Regions from separate parts of the Homo sapiens genome. Here region 2 is linked to region 1. Evidence: fine-mapped expression QTL. Tissue or cell type: sun-exposed skin. Region 1 holds a variant in brackets; the other region holds the start of a gene. All regions are shown on one strand. Distances are from middle to middle.

Region 1 (8,085 bases):
TTGCTTTTCTATCGATTATTAATTTTTGTCGTGCTTCTCAACAAACTGGAACTTCTCCCAACTATTTTATTAGAAAAAAATAAAATATTTAAAAAGAAAATTTGAAAAAAAGTACAGTACAGTGATCCCCCTGCCACCACCAAAACCGCAATGTTTGCTATATTTGTACAGCAATATACAATATACAATACCTATATTTGTATACATGTTTAACCGTTTGAAATAATTTTAAAACATGACACTTTACCCCTAAATACTTCAGCATGCACTATCCTACACAAAAGACATACGAAATTTAACAAGAATTCCTTTATATTATTTCAGTTTTCCCTCAAATATAATTTATAGTAATTAACCAGAATCTTACCAAGAGTCACTCACTGCATTGGGTGGTTTGTCAGGTTTAAAACATTTTAAACAGTCCACCAACCATTTGTATTCCCATCCTGAGCTTGAAAATTTAATAATAAGCCTTTCTGTAGAATTAAGTTTTCAACATCTTTATTATTGCTACATTCACAGGCATTTATGTAGCACCCAGAACTTATAAAATTTACTATTCCAGAACCTAGAGCAGGGATTGGCAAATGTCTTCTTAATAACGCAGAGTAAATATGTTAGGCTTTGTGGGCAAAACCCACAGTAAAGCCAAGGATATTATTTAAGTATTTATGTCACCACTTAAAATGTAACAATTTGAAAATATAAAAATCATTTTGTATAGCTAACAGGCTAAACAGAAACACACAGATTTTTGGTTGCATTTTACCAACAGGTCCTAGTTGACACATTCCTGTTTGTTCCTATTAGAAAGGAGTATTACATGCAGTCTCTTAAGTGTAGGGATATTGAAGTAAAAAACAAACTCAGAATCTTGCTAAGAAAATATTTGTTTTGGCATGAGATAAAGTAGTTTGTTTCCTTCTTTTTGGCTTTCTGTGTGCTGACTTTTAAGATCCATTATTTTAAAAACATAAATTCCTATTCATTAATATGTATTTTTTAAAAAAACAGGTTTACTTGTGTCCTGAAAGACAGTGTTACAGAAACACTGCCAAGAGTGAATAGGACAGCAGCGATTTCTGGGTATTCTTTCAAGCAATGCTCACACCAAATAAGCGGTAAGATATGTTCTCAGAATCAACAAATACCAGCTGTGATGTACACATATCGCCACATCGGATGTGGTTTTAAGGCTATGAAATGAAACACTGCTATGTGGAAATAAACCCCCTTAATGAAGTTCTTTCAGTGTAGAGTATAAACTAGTATACATACATGCCTGCCCTCCAACACACTGTAAAAACCTCTTTACCTCATAGAAAGACATATCTTACTACCTCACTTCCCATCATTTATTTATATTCTTTCTATTTCCCAGCCTAAAATCTTAAATGAAAGTCTTTTTTTTTTTGAGACAGGGTCTCACTCTGTTGTCCAGGCTGGAGTGCAGTGGTGCAATCACAGCTCACTCCAGCCTCAACCTCCTGGGTTCAAGTGATCTTCCTGCCTTAGCCTCTGGAGTAGCTGGGACCAGAGGCATGCACCAACATTCCCAGCTAATTTGTTCATTTTTCCTAGAGACAGGGTCTCACTGTATTGCCCAGGCTGGTCTCAAACTCTTGGCCTCAAGTGATCTGCCCGCCTCGGCCTTCCAGAGTGCCGGGATTCCATGGTGCCCAGTCGAAATTCTTTATTAAACGTATTAATCCAAATTGAAAGGAGCAAATATAAAGGTTGAAGTGACACTTGTCTTAATAGTGAATAGATACTTGAATCAGTTAATTAGCGAAATAATCAGTGCAGTTAGGGAGAAGAGAGGCTAGGTCAGAAAATCAAAATGTGAATTTACAAGTCTAAAATTGTTACAGTGTAAGAAGGACATTGGCATTCTTTTACTGCTTCCATTCAAGAATAAGAATTTTGCAGATTAATATAACGAAAGACCTCTGAGGAAAGGTGGGTGAAAAAGTTGAAAGGATGAGTCAGGAGGGACAGTTGCTTAGGTCATTGCCCCTAGAATCTGGAAGGTACTCATGTCTTCTGCTTTTATTTCCAGCTTGCAACAAAGACATTTATGTGGACCTAGACATGAAGGGCATAAACTATAACAGCTCAGTTGCCAAGAGTGCTCAAGAATGCCAAGAAAGATGCACGGATGACGTCCACTGCCACTTTTTCACGTACGCCACAAGGCAGTTTCCCAGCCTGGAGCATCGGTGAGTGAGTCCCAGGACATTCGAGTGGTCGATGAAAAACAGAATCGTGATTTACTAAAAAGCTTTTGCCATCAACTTTATGCCAGAATTTATTTTGAACCCCTAAAAGACATTTCTATAATAGTACTCCTAGTTTTCTTCATGAAAAATACACTTAAAGCCTAATTTGGATGCATTTCATTTATGGTAAGGAGTCTATCTTTTAATAACACTGTCAGAAAAATATATATACTTGGCTAATTTCAAAAGCGCTACACTTTTAAATTGGCACTTTTGAAACAGCTGCAATTGGTATGATTGTCAGTGCCCTTCCCAGTCTAAAAAATGTTACAGTCTAACAGAATAAAAATAAAAACCTACTCTCTCTCTCTCTAAATAACAGTTCCTTACCTAAGACAAAATACTCATGTAAAAAGTCTTATCCTGCTCCATACTGGATTTTGAAATATTTCAAGGATAAATCTATCACATAAGGATTTAAAAATTATCTGATCTCTAATAACCAAATCTGTGTTCTCATCTTTAAAAATTTACTAGGGAAATAGATTATTAATTTGTATATTCAGAAATATTTGAGATGATTTAGATTTTCATAGTAAACTGCATTTATCTGGAATCAACAGAAAAGTGAAAAACATTCAAATTACTAATACTTGCGTTTTAACATTGGATTTTAACATTCTGCTCTCCACATTCACAAAGAGGAGTGAACAGAAAGCAAACAAAGCATCAACGAGTTATTTCAAAAACAACAGTGGTGAAAAACACACACACCAAACCCCTAAATTCATGATTTGACTTGTAAGGCTTATCTTTAGCTCAGCTCAGACGACAGCTTTTATGTCTAAGACTTAACAGAATGTGAACTGCAAGACAAGAAATTGGAGGTTTCTAAGCAAGATAAAGTTAAGTCATTAAAAGTAAGAAGGACTTAGCCAGGCGCGGTGGCTCACACCTGTAATCCCAGCACTTTGGGAGGCCGAGGCGGGCAGATCACCTGAGGTCAGGAGTTCGACACCAGCCTGACCAATATGGTGAAACCCCGTCTCTACTAAAAAAGAATACAAAAATTAGCCAGGCGCGGTGGTGGGCGCTTGTAATCCCAGCTACTTGGGAGGCTGAGACAAGAGAATCGCTTGAACCCAGGAGG[C/T]GGAGGTTGCAGTGAGCCAAGATCGTGCCATTGCACTCCAACCTGGGCAACAGAGTGAGACTCCGTCTCAAATAAAAAAAAACAAAAAATGAGAAGGGCTTGAGAAGTCATTCATTCATGCACTCTCCTTCTTCATGTGGTCACTCTCTCAAGCTGTCATTATACTGAAGAAGAAATAAACTTACACAATTCACAGGTGCTTAGCAACACTGCTGGGACCATGCCCAGCCATTCAGCCTCCCAGATGGATGCTTCGGGGTCTCGCAGGTCCTCTCTCCAAAGGGGACTTTCTTAATATCTCATGTTTTTTCCTCCTTGCAGTTGGAAGAATAAGACACTTTTCCTTTTTCTTTTTATTCAGTAACATTTGTCTACTGAAGCACACCCAAACAGGGACACCAACCAGAATAACGAAGCTCGATAAAGTGGTGTCTGGATTTTCACTGAAATCCTGTGCACTTTCTAATCTGGGTAATTATCGACTTCTTGATGATGTAATTCAACCATTAAATATGCTGATGATTACAGTAGATCTCACTCAGGATACCAGCTTATGCTCACGATGAAACGGACCCAAAGATCTTTACCTTCTTCATGTGATAGATTTCATCATGTCCTATACAGTTAGATCCTCTATTTAAATTTCCAGTTTAAAATAATCATGCCATTTTCTTCTAAATAAAAAAAAATTAAAAGATCTTGGGATACACTTAAATTTTTTAATATGGAATTTACACATACTGTGACCGGAATTTTCCTGATAGCTGGTGAATTGAGTCCCTGACATAGTTCTTCCGTCGCGCAGCTTGTATTAGGGACATTTTCCCTAATACGGTGTTTGCAGACAGCAACATCGACAGTGTCATGGCTCCCGATGCTTTTGTCTGTGGCCGAATCTGCACTCATCATCCCGGTTGCTTGTTTTTTACCTTCTTTTCCCAGGAATGGCCCAAAGAATCTCAAAGGTAAGGAGTTAACAAGTAAGGATAATTTGTTATCTTCTAAAAATAGCTGATCAAAATCCATCATTAAAAATTCCAAGTAACTAAAAATTTACTCTAAATGTCAGTATAGGATAAAAGTTGCAAAGAATTTCTAGCCCCTCTCCCTTTCTATTCCCCACCTACTTACCACAAACCCAACATTACCGAGGACTCTTTTTTTTTTTTTTTTTTTTTTGAGATGGAGTCTCGCTCTGCTGCCCAGGCTGGAGTGCGGTGGCATGATTTCAGCTCACTGCAACCTTCGCCTCCCAGGTCCAAGCGATTCTCCTGCCTCAGCCTCCTGAGTAGCTGGGACTACAGGCATGGGACACCACGCCCAGTAATTTTTTTTGTATTTTTAGTAGAGATGGGGTTTCACCATGTTGGCCAGGCTGGTCTCAAACTCCTGACTTCAGGTGATCCACCTGCCTCGGCCTCCCAAAGTGCTGAGATTACAGGGTTGGGCCACCGTGCCCGGCCAGTAAATTTTAAAATAAATATAAATATTACTTCACCTAAATAAATTTTAGGTACAGGTACAGTTGTGTTACATGGATATACTGTGTAGTGGTGAAGTCTGGGCTTTCAGTGTAGCCAAATAGTATACATTATTCCCATTAGATAATTTCTCCTGCCTCACCCTCCTCTATCCTCCCAACTCTCTGAGTCTCCAATAGCTTTCATTCCACTGTCTCTGTGCCTGTGTACACTTTATTTAGCTCCCACTTAAAAGTGAGAATCTACAATATTTGACTTTCTGTTTCTGAGTTGTTTCACTTGAGATAATAGCCTCCAGTTCTATCCATGTTGCTGCAAAAGATATGATTTTATGATTTTTTTATGGCTAAGTAACATTCTATAGTATATTCTATACACCACATTTTCTTTATCCATTCATTTGCTGATAGACTCTTAGGTTGATCCATATCTTTGTTATTGTGAATAGTGCTGCAGTAAACATGTGAGTGTAGGTATCTTTGTGACATGATTTTTTTTTCTTTCTTTTCCTTTGGCTATGTACCCAGTAGTGGGATTGCTGGAGGTCTCCACCTTGGCAAAGGGGCAGTTGTCTAGTTCTAAATGAAATGAAGAGATTCCATTTCCATTTCATGACAACTAAAAGACAATTCAGTCCAATGCTTTGTTTAAAATAATTGAACCAGGAACAGAAAGAGCTGAAAATGTCAGTGAAATGTCAAACCCAAAGTGGAGAGAGAGAGAGAGGTGGAAATGAATGTCTCCATCAAGTGGGTTAGGGTGGTGGTGGAGGGAGGTTTGAGAATTGAGTCCCTGTTTCCTTACCAATGGAAATTAACATAGGACATCAGAAACAGCATGGAAAATTTCTTTGATTATCAAAAGTACACTAGCTAAGGTTGCTGTCCCTCTTTTATTTATTTATTTATTTGAGACAGGGTCTTGCTCTGTCACTCAGATTTGGTTGCACTGGGTGTGATCTCAGCCCACTGCAGCCTCCACTTCCTAGGCTCAAGCAATCCACCCGTCTCATCCTCCCAAGTTGCTGGGACCACAGGTGTGCACCACCACCCCCAGCTAATGTTTGTTTTTTTGTAGAGACAGAGTTTCGCCATGTTGGCCAGGCTGGTCTAGAACTCCTGGCCTCAAGCAATCCACCTGCCTTGGTCTCCCACAGTGCAGGGATTACAAGCCTGAGCCACTATGCCCAGCTTGCTATTCCTCATTGACAACATTCACTTAAACAAGCAAACAAATATCCGTAAAATTAAGTCAGCTTTAAAACCTGGCTTGTATATATCTCTGAATTGGAACTCTCAGAGCCCTCAGCACTTGCCTGATTGGCCTCCTGTTGATGAAAAGTTGTCCTCCAGACAACTCAGCCAAGGGAGGCCCTGTGTGCCTTGCCTATCACATGAGCCTCACTTTCCACTGAGTGAGGCTGTCATTTCAGAAGCACCGGGTCTGTCACATGAAAATATATCTGTTACCATCACTTACTAAACAAATTTAGTAGAATTTGTTTGGTGCTTATTATGTATCAGGCATTGTTCTGAAGGCTGGGGATACCATTTAGTGAACTAAATCGACAAAAACTTTGCCTATTGGACCAGAGTGGAGATGAGAGAGAAGTGACCAGATCGATCTGTGTTATCAGCAGACAGCCAATAAGATTTGCTGATAGGTTGGACCACGGATTGTGAAGGAGTCAGTGATAGCACCAAGACTTTTGGCCCAAGGAACTGGAAAGATGGAAATGTCAATGACAGAATGTGGAGGATTTCGCAAGCAGCAGAGTGTAGGAGAAGCAATGCCCTTGGCTCATCTAGGGCAAAGGGTTGAATTGGCAACTGGAAATAGAAGTCAAATTCAGAAGAGAGGTTTATGTGGACATCTGTGTTTAGGTGTCACCAATATACAGCTGATACTTTTTAAAAATCTAGTGAAATTATCAAAGGGTTAAATGCAGAGAGGGAAGAAAGTAGGTCCAAAGATCAAGCCTTGGGACATTGGAAGTTTAGAAATAAGAAAGATGTCATTGTCACTTGTAATTTTGTGCTAGTCACTGCTCTTTTTCTTTGTCTTATTACCTTACTGACCAATTCCTAGAATAGGAATAACACATTTGATCTTTAATACAGTATGTGATAGGAACATGGCTTCTATAAGCCCAAACTTGGCAATTTAAATTTAAATTTATTAAAATTAAATAAAACTGGCTGGGTGCAGTGGCTCACGCCTGTAATCCCAGCACTTTGGGAGGCCGAGGCGGTGAATCACGAGGTCAGGAGTACGAGACCATCCTGGCCAACATGGTGAAACCCCGTCTCTACTAAAAATACAAAAGTTAGCCAGGTGTGGTGGCATGTGCCTGTAATCCCAGCTACTCAAGAGGCTGAGGCAGGAGAATCACTTGAACCCGGGAGGCGGAGGTTGCAGTGAGCCAAGATCGCGACACTGCACTCCAGCCTGGGTGACAAGAGAAAGACTATGTCTCAAAAAAAAAAAAAATTTTAAATAAAACTAAAAATTCACCTTCCCAGCTGTGTTAGCCACATTTCAAGTGCCCAATAGCCACATGTAGTTGGCAGTTACTGTATTGGATGGCACAGGCATAGAATATTTCCATCACTGCAGAAAGATCTATGGACAGTCTTGCTCTAGACTGTGATTTTGTCTACTTAGGAAAAGTCACTCTTTTCCAGGAAGATGCTTCCAGGGTGTGGAGTAAACGACGGACTTCACCCATCTCCTTATAAACCTATTGCAACCCTGGATAGGAGGTTTCTAGGTAGCATGAAGACTCTTGAATCTTTAAGATAGGCTGGGAGTGTTGAAAGGAAGGAAATGAAAAGGGAAGATACTAGGAAGACTGACAATAGAGCAAGCTCAGAAAATTTTTATGGAGGTGATTTAGTTAGAAAATTTGTCTGCAACCTAAGGGCCATGGAGTGTGACTCCATGGTTTATGGGTGTAACTCCGTGGTTTATGAAGAGTACTTTCAAAATAGGAAAATCTTCACAACTAAGTGCTAGCATGAGCTGACTTTACTTTCTCTAGGTGCTGTAAAAATGTTTTTATGTGTTTGATATGATATATTTCTACTTCCCTTTTGTTTTTGTTAGAAATCTTTGTCTCCTTAAAACATCTGAGAGTGGATTGCCCAGTACACGCATTAAAAAGAGCAAAGCTCTTTCTGGTTTCAGTCTACAAAGCTGCAGGCACAGCATCCCAGGTAAACTGAGAGTTCTGCAT
Region 2 (8,106 bases), 49 kb before region 1:
GGTTTAAAAGTGGTGGTTACCCGTGCGCACATGCTCTCTCTCTCTCCTGCTGCCTTGTGAAGAAGGTACCTGCTTCCCCTTCACCTTCCACCATAATTGTAAGTTTCCTGAGGCCTCCCCAGCCATGAGGAACTGTGAGTCATTTAGACCTCTTTTGTTTATAAATTACCCAGTCTCAGGTGATATCTTTTAGCAGTGTGAAAATAAACAATACAGAGAATTGGTACTGGCAGAGTGAGGTACTGCTATAAAGACAACCTGAAAATGTGAAGGCAACTTTGAAACTGGGTAACAGGCAGAGGTTGGAACAGTTTGGAGGGCTTAGAAGATAGGAAGATGTGGGAAAGTTTGAAACTTCCTAGAGACTTGTTGAATGGTTTTGACCAAAATGCTGATAGTCGTATTGACAATGAAGTCCAGGCTGAGATGGTCTCAGATGGAGACGAGAAACTATTGGGAACTGGAGCAAAGGCCATTCTTGCTATGCTTTAGCAGAGACTGGCAGCATTTTGCCCCTGCCCTAGAGATCTGTGGAGCTTTGAACTTGAGAGAGATGATTTAGGGTATCTGTCAGAATAAATTTCTAAGCAGAAAAGCATTCAAATATAACCTGGCTTTTTCTGAAAGCATACAGTCAAGTCATATGCGTTCACAAAGAGATGGTATGAAATTGGAACTTATGTTTAAAAGGGAAGCAAAGCATAAAAGTTTGGAAATTTTGCAGCCTGACCATGTGGTAGAAAAGAAAAACCAATTTTCTGAGGAGGAATTCAAGCCGGCTGCAGAAATTTACATAAGTAATCAGGAGCTGAATGTTAATTGCCAAACAATGGGGAAATGTCTCCAGGGCATTTCAGAGGTCTTCAAGGCAGCCCCTCCCATTACAAGCCCAGAGGCCTAGGAGGGAAAAATGGTTTCATGGGCCCTGCTGCTCTGTGCAGCCTTGGGACTTGGTGCCCTGTGCCCCAGCCACTCCAGCTCCAGCTGTGACTAAAAGGGTCCATAGCTCAGGCTGTCGCTTCAAGGGTGCAAGCCCCAAGCCTTGGTGGCTTCCACGTGCTCTTGGGTCTGCGAGTTCACAGAAAACAAGAGCTGAGCTTTGAGAGCCTCTGCCTAGATTTCACAGGATGTGTGGAAACACCTGGCTGTCCAGGCAGAAGCCTGCTGCAGGGACCCAGCCCTCATGGAGAACCTCTATTAGGGCAGTGCAGAGGTGAACTGTGGGGTTGGAGCCCACACACAGAGACCCCACTGGAGCACTGCCCAGTGGAGCTGTGAAAAGAGTTCCCCCATCTTCCAGATGCCAGAATGGTAGATCCACTGACTGGAAAGTTGCAGGCACTCAGTGCCGGCCCATGAAGGCAGCCGTAGGGGCTGTACCCTGCAAAGCCACAGGGACAGAGCTGCCCAAGGCCTTAACAGCCCACACCTTGCATCAGCATGCCCTGGGTGTGAGACAGGGGCTCCAAGGAGATTATTTTGGAGCTTTAAAATTTAATGACTTCCCTGCTAGGTTTTGCATATGCTTGGGACCTGTGGCCCCTTTATTTTGGCCAATTTCTCCCATTTGGAATGGGAACATTTACCCAATTCCTGTACCCACATTGTGTTTTGGAAGTAACTAACTTGTTTTTTATTTTAAAGGCTCATTGAGGGAAGGGACTTGCCTTGTCTCAAATGAGACTTTGGACTCGGACTTTTGGGTTACTGTGGAATGAGTTAAGACTTTGGGGGACTGTTGGAAAGACATCATTGGTTTTGAAATCTGAAAAGGACATGAGATTTGGGAAAGGCCAGGGGAAGAATGATATGGTTTGGCTCTGTGTCCTCATCCAAATCTCGTCTTGAATTGTAATCCCCACATGGGATTACATGGGAGGGGCCTGGTGAGAGGTGATTGGATCATGGAGGTGGTTTCCCCTGTGCTGTGATCTCATGATAGTGAGGGATTTAAAAGTGACAGTTTCCCCTGCACATACACACTCTCTCTCTCGTATCACCTTGTGAAGAAGGTGTCTGCTTCCCCTCTGCCTTCCATCGTGATTATAAGTTTCCTGAGGCCTCCCCAGCCATGGGTAACTGTGAGTCAGTTAAACCTCTTTTGTTTATAAATTACCCAGTCTCAGGTAGTATCTTTACAGCAGTGTGAAACTGGACTAATACATCTGGGAAATTCTTTTTGTCTCCTTCCTTTCTGAAGGACAGCTTTGCCTGATATTATATTCTTGGTTGCCAGGTTTTGTACTTTCAATACTTTGAATATATCATCCCACTCTCTCTTGGCCTACATGATTTCTGCTGAGAAATCCACCAATAATCTTATGAAGCTTCCCTTGTATGTGAAGAATTGCTTTTCTCTTGCTTCTTTGAAAATTCTCTCTTTGTCATGGTGAGGATTTCTTTTTTTTTTTTTTTTTTTTAGATGGAGTCTAGCTCTGTTGTCCAGGCTGGAGTGCAGTGTGCAGTGGCGCAATCTCGGCTCACTGCAAGCTCCGTCTCCTGGGTTCACACCATTTTCCTGTCTCAGCCTCTGGAGTAGCTGAGACTACAGGTGCCCACCACCACGCCTGGCTAAATTTTTTTTGTATTTTTAGTAGAGATGGGGTTTCACTGTGTTAGCCAGGATGGTCTCGATCTCCTGACCTCATGATCCACCCATCTTGGCCTCCCAAAGTGCTGGGATTACAGGCATGAGCCACTGCACCTGGCCGAGGATCTCTTTATATTTAATCTATTTGGAGTTCTTTTGGGCTTCATAAATCTGGATGTTTATTTCATTTATGTCTCCAAATTTTGAGAGTTTTCTATTCTTATTTTTTTAAATAAGTTTCTGCAACTTTCTCTTTCTCTACTTCTTCTGGAACTCTTCTAATGCATATTAATTTTCTTAACAGTGTCCTATAAGTCTTGTCAGCTTTCTGCAATTTTTATCATTCCTTTTATTACTCTGACTGGGTAATTTCAAATGACCTGTATCTGAGCATGCTGATTCTTTCTCCTGCTTGATCTAGTCTGCTGCTGAAGCTGTTTGTGAATTTTTTCAATTCAGTCATTTTGTTCTTTAGCTCCAGAATTTCTGTTTCATTCTTTTTTATGGTTCCTATCTATCTTTTTGTTGAACTTCTAATTTTGCTCATGTATTGTTTTCCTGATTTTGTTTACTGTCTATCTATATTGTTTTGTAGCTTATTGAGCTTTCTTAAGGCAATTATTTTTAGCTCTTGTCATGCAGTAAAGATCTCCATTTCTTTAGGGTCACCTCCTGCTGCTTTATTTCCTTCCTTTGGTGGTTTCTTGTTTCCCCGATTATTTGTGATCAGTGTGGCCTTGCACTGAAGTAGGCACCTATTTCAGTCTTTACATACTAGCTTCAGCAGAGAAAGCCATTCACTAGTCAGATTGACCAGAGATTGTTGGTGGGCTGTCTGTTGGGGTCTATGCACAGGATTTCTGCTGGAGTTCTAAGGTGGGAAGGGCTGGATTCTGGGTTCATTCACTGTGGTTGTCTGTATTCTGTGCACAAGGACTGGCTTGAAGCATGGATCCTTGGGGGCTGACTTGGCACTGAAATGAGCCTTAAGCCTGCGTCTGCAGGGGCCAGCCTAACATGGGGATCACCTGGCACCTGAGTTCATGGGGATAGGCCTGTTCCTGAGTTTATTCAGGCTGTCCTGGGAACAAGGTCCACTGGGGTGAGCCCAGCATCTGGGTCCACATGGCCCAGCATGGAGCCAAGATCTCTGGAGGCTGACCTGGTGCTGGATCTGCAGGGGATGGCCTGGATTCTAGGCCCATGGGTGCCAACTTGGAGCCTGGGGTTGCTGGGGCTAACGTGGAGGCTAGATAGAGTCTTGGGGGCCAGGCTAGAGCTGGAGCAGGCCTGAAGTCTAGGTTTTGTGTGGCCATCTTGGAGCCTGAAGCCCCAGGGGCTGACCTGGTCTGGGGTGAGCATGGGGCTGAGGCCACAGAGGCTGGTCTGGCCTGTGGCAGGCCTGAATCCTGGTGCTGGGGTTTACTGGAGTGGGCTTGGTGCTTGGGATCTGTGGTGAAGTTAGGTTCTATCTTAACTGTCCCTCCTCCATGCAAGAGGGCATCTCTCTCCATACTGTGCTGCCCAGGCTTGAAGGTGAGATGACACCGGTAATGTGAAATTGTCCTTCCTATACACTTCTATGTGTCTTTTCTTATTTCTGTGCTGCAACCAGGTGGCATAACCTCTCACCTGATTCCTTAGCTCTAGTGAAGTTATTTTCGTGCATGGATACTTGTTCGAATTGATGTTTCTGCAAGGGATGAGCGCTAGAAACTCCTGTTCTGACAAACTCCTATTCCTATTCTTGCTGACATCACTCCCTGAAATAGTTAATATACTTAACAGCTGAACACGGATAGGATGTTCATGGAATATGTTGACAGGACAAAAAGTTGAAACTGTTGGCAGAAACCCAAAGTCAATATTGAAGCCAAGCAAAATATTGCCTGCAGTGCCACATTAGAACAGCTTGAAGACCGTTCATTTTTAAGTGACAAGAGACTCACCTCCAAGAAGCAATTGTGTTTTCAGGTAGCAAATTTTTATTATTCTGATTGTTTCCAAATAAACTATAATTTTTAAGTATAATTTTTTACTTTATGAGAAAATTAATCATTTATATTCTAATTTCCTGAGTATGTAGAGAGTATAGATAATGTTCCTTTATGTAGAAATATTTAAATGTAAGATGATTTTAAATCAGAAAGAATATTTGATTGATTTAAAATTTTTAAATGGGCTTTAATATTTTCAGAGGTTTTCTTTACTTAGGGATTTTTGGACTGACATTATTGCCATTATTTATTAATTTTGTTTTTGCCCAAATCAAGAGGTTTCATAATTGTTTACTCTCTCTCTACCAATTCCCTTTCCAACATTACTAGCCACAGAGTTGGCCAATGAACAATAAACACAACAGTAGTCTGGAGGTCTCAATTTGTATCTTGGGAAGCATTATAAATTTTCCAACTCCCTAGACACAAATGTACCAAAAAAAAACCCTTGTTTTCTATACCAGTAATTGTGTGCTTTGTCTTGCAATTCAGACATTTACAAGAAAATCTAAATCACCTTAAATTAAGATTTATGTTAAATGTGGTCTAAAACCAGCAGAGTTATGTATTGTTTTCTTTTTTAGAATGATTTTATTCAAGCAAGCAACTTATTTCATTTCCTTGTTTGCTACAGTTTCCTGTGGTAAGTGAATTATCTATAAAACATGGAATTCAGGCTAAGACAGGAGTAGCCAAGCAAGTGGCACCACCCCTGGAGAAAGCTATTGAACATACAGCTTCGGGGGTGGAGATTGTCCCTGATGATTCAGGACACGTGTCTATTTAATGTTCCACAACAAGGACCACTTGTCAGGTATATTGCTGTAGACATATGTTGCAGACCAGAGGAAGGAGCTCAGAAGTAGGAATGTCTTGGGACTTGTGTTAACAAAAACTTCTGTTCGCAGATGACACTCTGCAAAGCAAAACTTGAAACAAAAAAAAATTAGTCCTCTATTTTTATTATCAACAGTAAAAAATTAAACTTTATCTGAAAATTCAAAAGAGTGCTAGGCATTTTATAGTGTCTGGGTCCAATCCAAGTATCTGTTAGGAACACCATACATAGTTTTACTCTGGACCGCTAGGGAACCATTTCAAAAATGAAAGTAACTGGTTTAAATTTAACTTAGCAAACCATGCATTTGGATAGTTCTAGGTGAATAGCTTTCAACACCAGATTTAGATCTCATTTCTCTATTAATTTCATTAATTTTTGGAGAATAAAAATGATTCTGGACATTTCATTAATCATTACAGAGGGAGTTTTCTCTGTGTCCCCACAAGGCATGATTCTGGGTCTATGGTGACTTAAGAGGGCCACACAACAATGAGTATTTAATTTTCCTCAGATGTATGGCTACAATAAACATCTATAGGTAAGGTTTACATTCATAAAGAGACCTTTTTTTTTCCAGGAAAAAAGACTTTTATTCCCCCTAAATCACAACTCCCCTGTGTCTGTCCCTCAACCCTGATTTCTCTTCTAAACCGTAATTTACAAACCCATGTGCAAACCCACTGAAAGGTGAGAAGGAGCATAAGCCAGAGACACTGGGAACCACAGCCAACTACAGGGGGTTTTTCATTTTTTTGTTTTGTTTTGTTTTTTGGCAAAATAAATCATGATTATGGCTAGGAAAATCAGGGATGTAAGTAAGCAAAAATTTAGAAACTACATATTGCATGTAGTCCCCAAATTCAGAAACAGTCATCGTTAAACATCTTTTATTTAGTCTTTCAGATATTTTTCTACATATACCTATTTGCACATTTCACAAAAAAGAGTTATTAACTGTGGACACTCTTTGACTTGCATTTTCCACTTATAGCTATCTTTTGGTGCAAATAAGTAATATATTTTGGAGCTTGCTATTCTTCTCTTTTTATGGTATTTTTGTGTGCACATTCTTATGCTCTTATTCAGTTATTTCTGTAGAATACAATTTTTGAAATAAAAATACTAGATTCAAAGGTGTGAATATTTTTGAAGGTTTTGTGGTGTGGTATCATGAAATTAGGTTTCAGAAAGTTTACTCCATAGTTGACTTTTTCTACCAGCTAATAAGAGTGCTCATTTACCCCACTTAGGCCAACTCTAACAGGCTTCTGTTGCTTTGCATCCTGACATATTTATCTTTCTGGAAACAGTGTCCTAATTTATTTCTGCAGAGCTACTGCCTCTCAGTTTTGGTCCATGTGGTTCTGGTGACCCTGATTCTTCTGCTGAACCAGAAAGTGCACACATCCTCCTGGCTGTGGTGACCCAATCAGAGCCAACGTCTTGCAATGAAGCTTTTCTTTAGACATCTAGAAATAAGACTCTTATGTTTTTTTTTTCCAATTTGACTTGAAACTTAAGACAATACACAGGCCTGAGTTGTTGGTACTATTTTGCTACTACGTGGAGCTTGAGAGTAATGGTAACACCAAGACTGGAGCAAGTGGAAGGAGACATATTGTCCACTGATGCTATCAGTTGAGCACAATGTGCAGTTACTTTTTAAGCCAGATTCACCATGGGCTTTTTGGCTCCTGAACCAATAGATTTCATTTGTTTTCAAGCCACTTTGTACTAGGTTTTCCATCATTTGCAATCAAAACCAGTATACAAACACTGGTTATTTAATTTTTCATTTTTGCTAATCTCAGGGATAAAATGGCTTCTAGTTGTTTTAACTTGGCTATATTTGTGATTCTTCCCATTTTCATATACTTACTAATCACTTCTATTTCTTTTGTAAATTATCTTTTCATATTTGTTATCTAATTCTTTAAAATTTGAGTACTTTAATTCTCATTATTGTTTGTGGAATTGTTAAACAAGACTGAATAATCTGCCCAAAGTCCATGGACATGGGGGCCCATGTAAAAGCTTTGAAAGCCACCATCATTATGAGATAAATTATATAATAGTACTTTACATAGGCTCCAAAATACAGCACAGACACAGCTATCATTGTCATGGTCATCATTATCATCATGATCACCAACTTATGAGGATAAGCAAGAACACCTACTAGAAGTTTCTTTCCATTCAGCAACAAAATTGGTGTCTTTCTAGTCACTCCCTTCCCTGACTGTCACATAGCAGTTCACAGAGGCTCAGTTGCAGAATGAGAAGCTCTGGGCCAGGACCTGCCATTGTATGCATCCTTGCATGGGAACTGGGGGCTGGAAGAGGAGTGACTGCTTGATAATTATGAGTCAGTCAAAACCACCAACTGTCTGAAAAAAATAGGCCTTTTTGTAACTAGTATTGTCACTAAACCAACTCCTCCATGTTTTGTGCATACATGAAATCTAGGCAATACACTTGTATTCCCAAAAGCTTCCACTTGAAGAGATCTGTGCTCTTTCCAAATATAAACCTTACCCGAGAGGTGGTCATCTTGGCCACACCTCAGAGAGGGAGAGAGGCAGTCTTGTTGGGTTGGGTGGTCATAATGGGGCTCAGGGCCAAATCCCCAGGGGGTAGGATAGTGCAGAGAAGATGGCACTCTCCAGTGCTTAATAAAA

What was found. PIP is the estimated chance that this variant, and not a neighbour inherited with it, causes the effect.
Region 2: it holds the start of KLKB1, and the variant in region 1 is fine-mapped to the expression of KLKB1 in sun-exposed skin (GTEx, PIP 0.93).

Annotation. Positions count from the first base shown.
Region 1 is chr4:186,272,057-186,280,141 of GRCh38, forward strand. It overlaps F11 (coagulation factor XI), which reads left to right. Exons shown (of 15, transcript NM_000128.4): 4 at 1,015-1,121; 5 at 2,060-2,219; 6 at 3,731-3,840; 7 at 4,175-4,334; 8 at 7,956-8,065. Among named protein-coding and RNA genes, the nearest start is that of F11, 9.9 kb to the left of the region's middle. The variant C/T (reference allele first, on the strand shown) is at 3,370.
Region 2 is chr4:186,223,024-186,231,129 of GRCh38, forward strand. KLKB1 (kallikrein B1) reads left to right here and starts at 4,484. Exons shown (of 15, transcript NM_000892.5): 1 at 4,484-4,564; 2 at 5,172-5,230. The coding sequence starts at 5,173. RefSeq lists an enhancer at 2,991-3,661.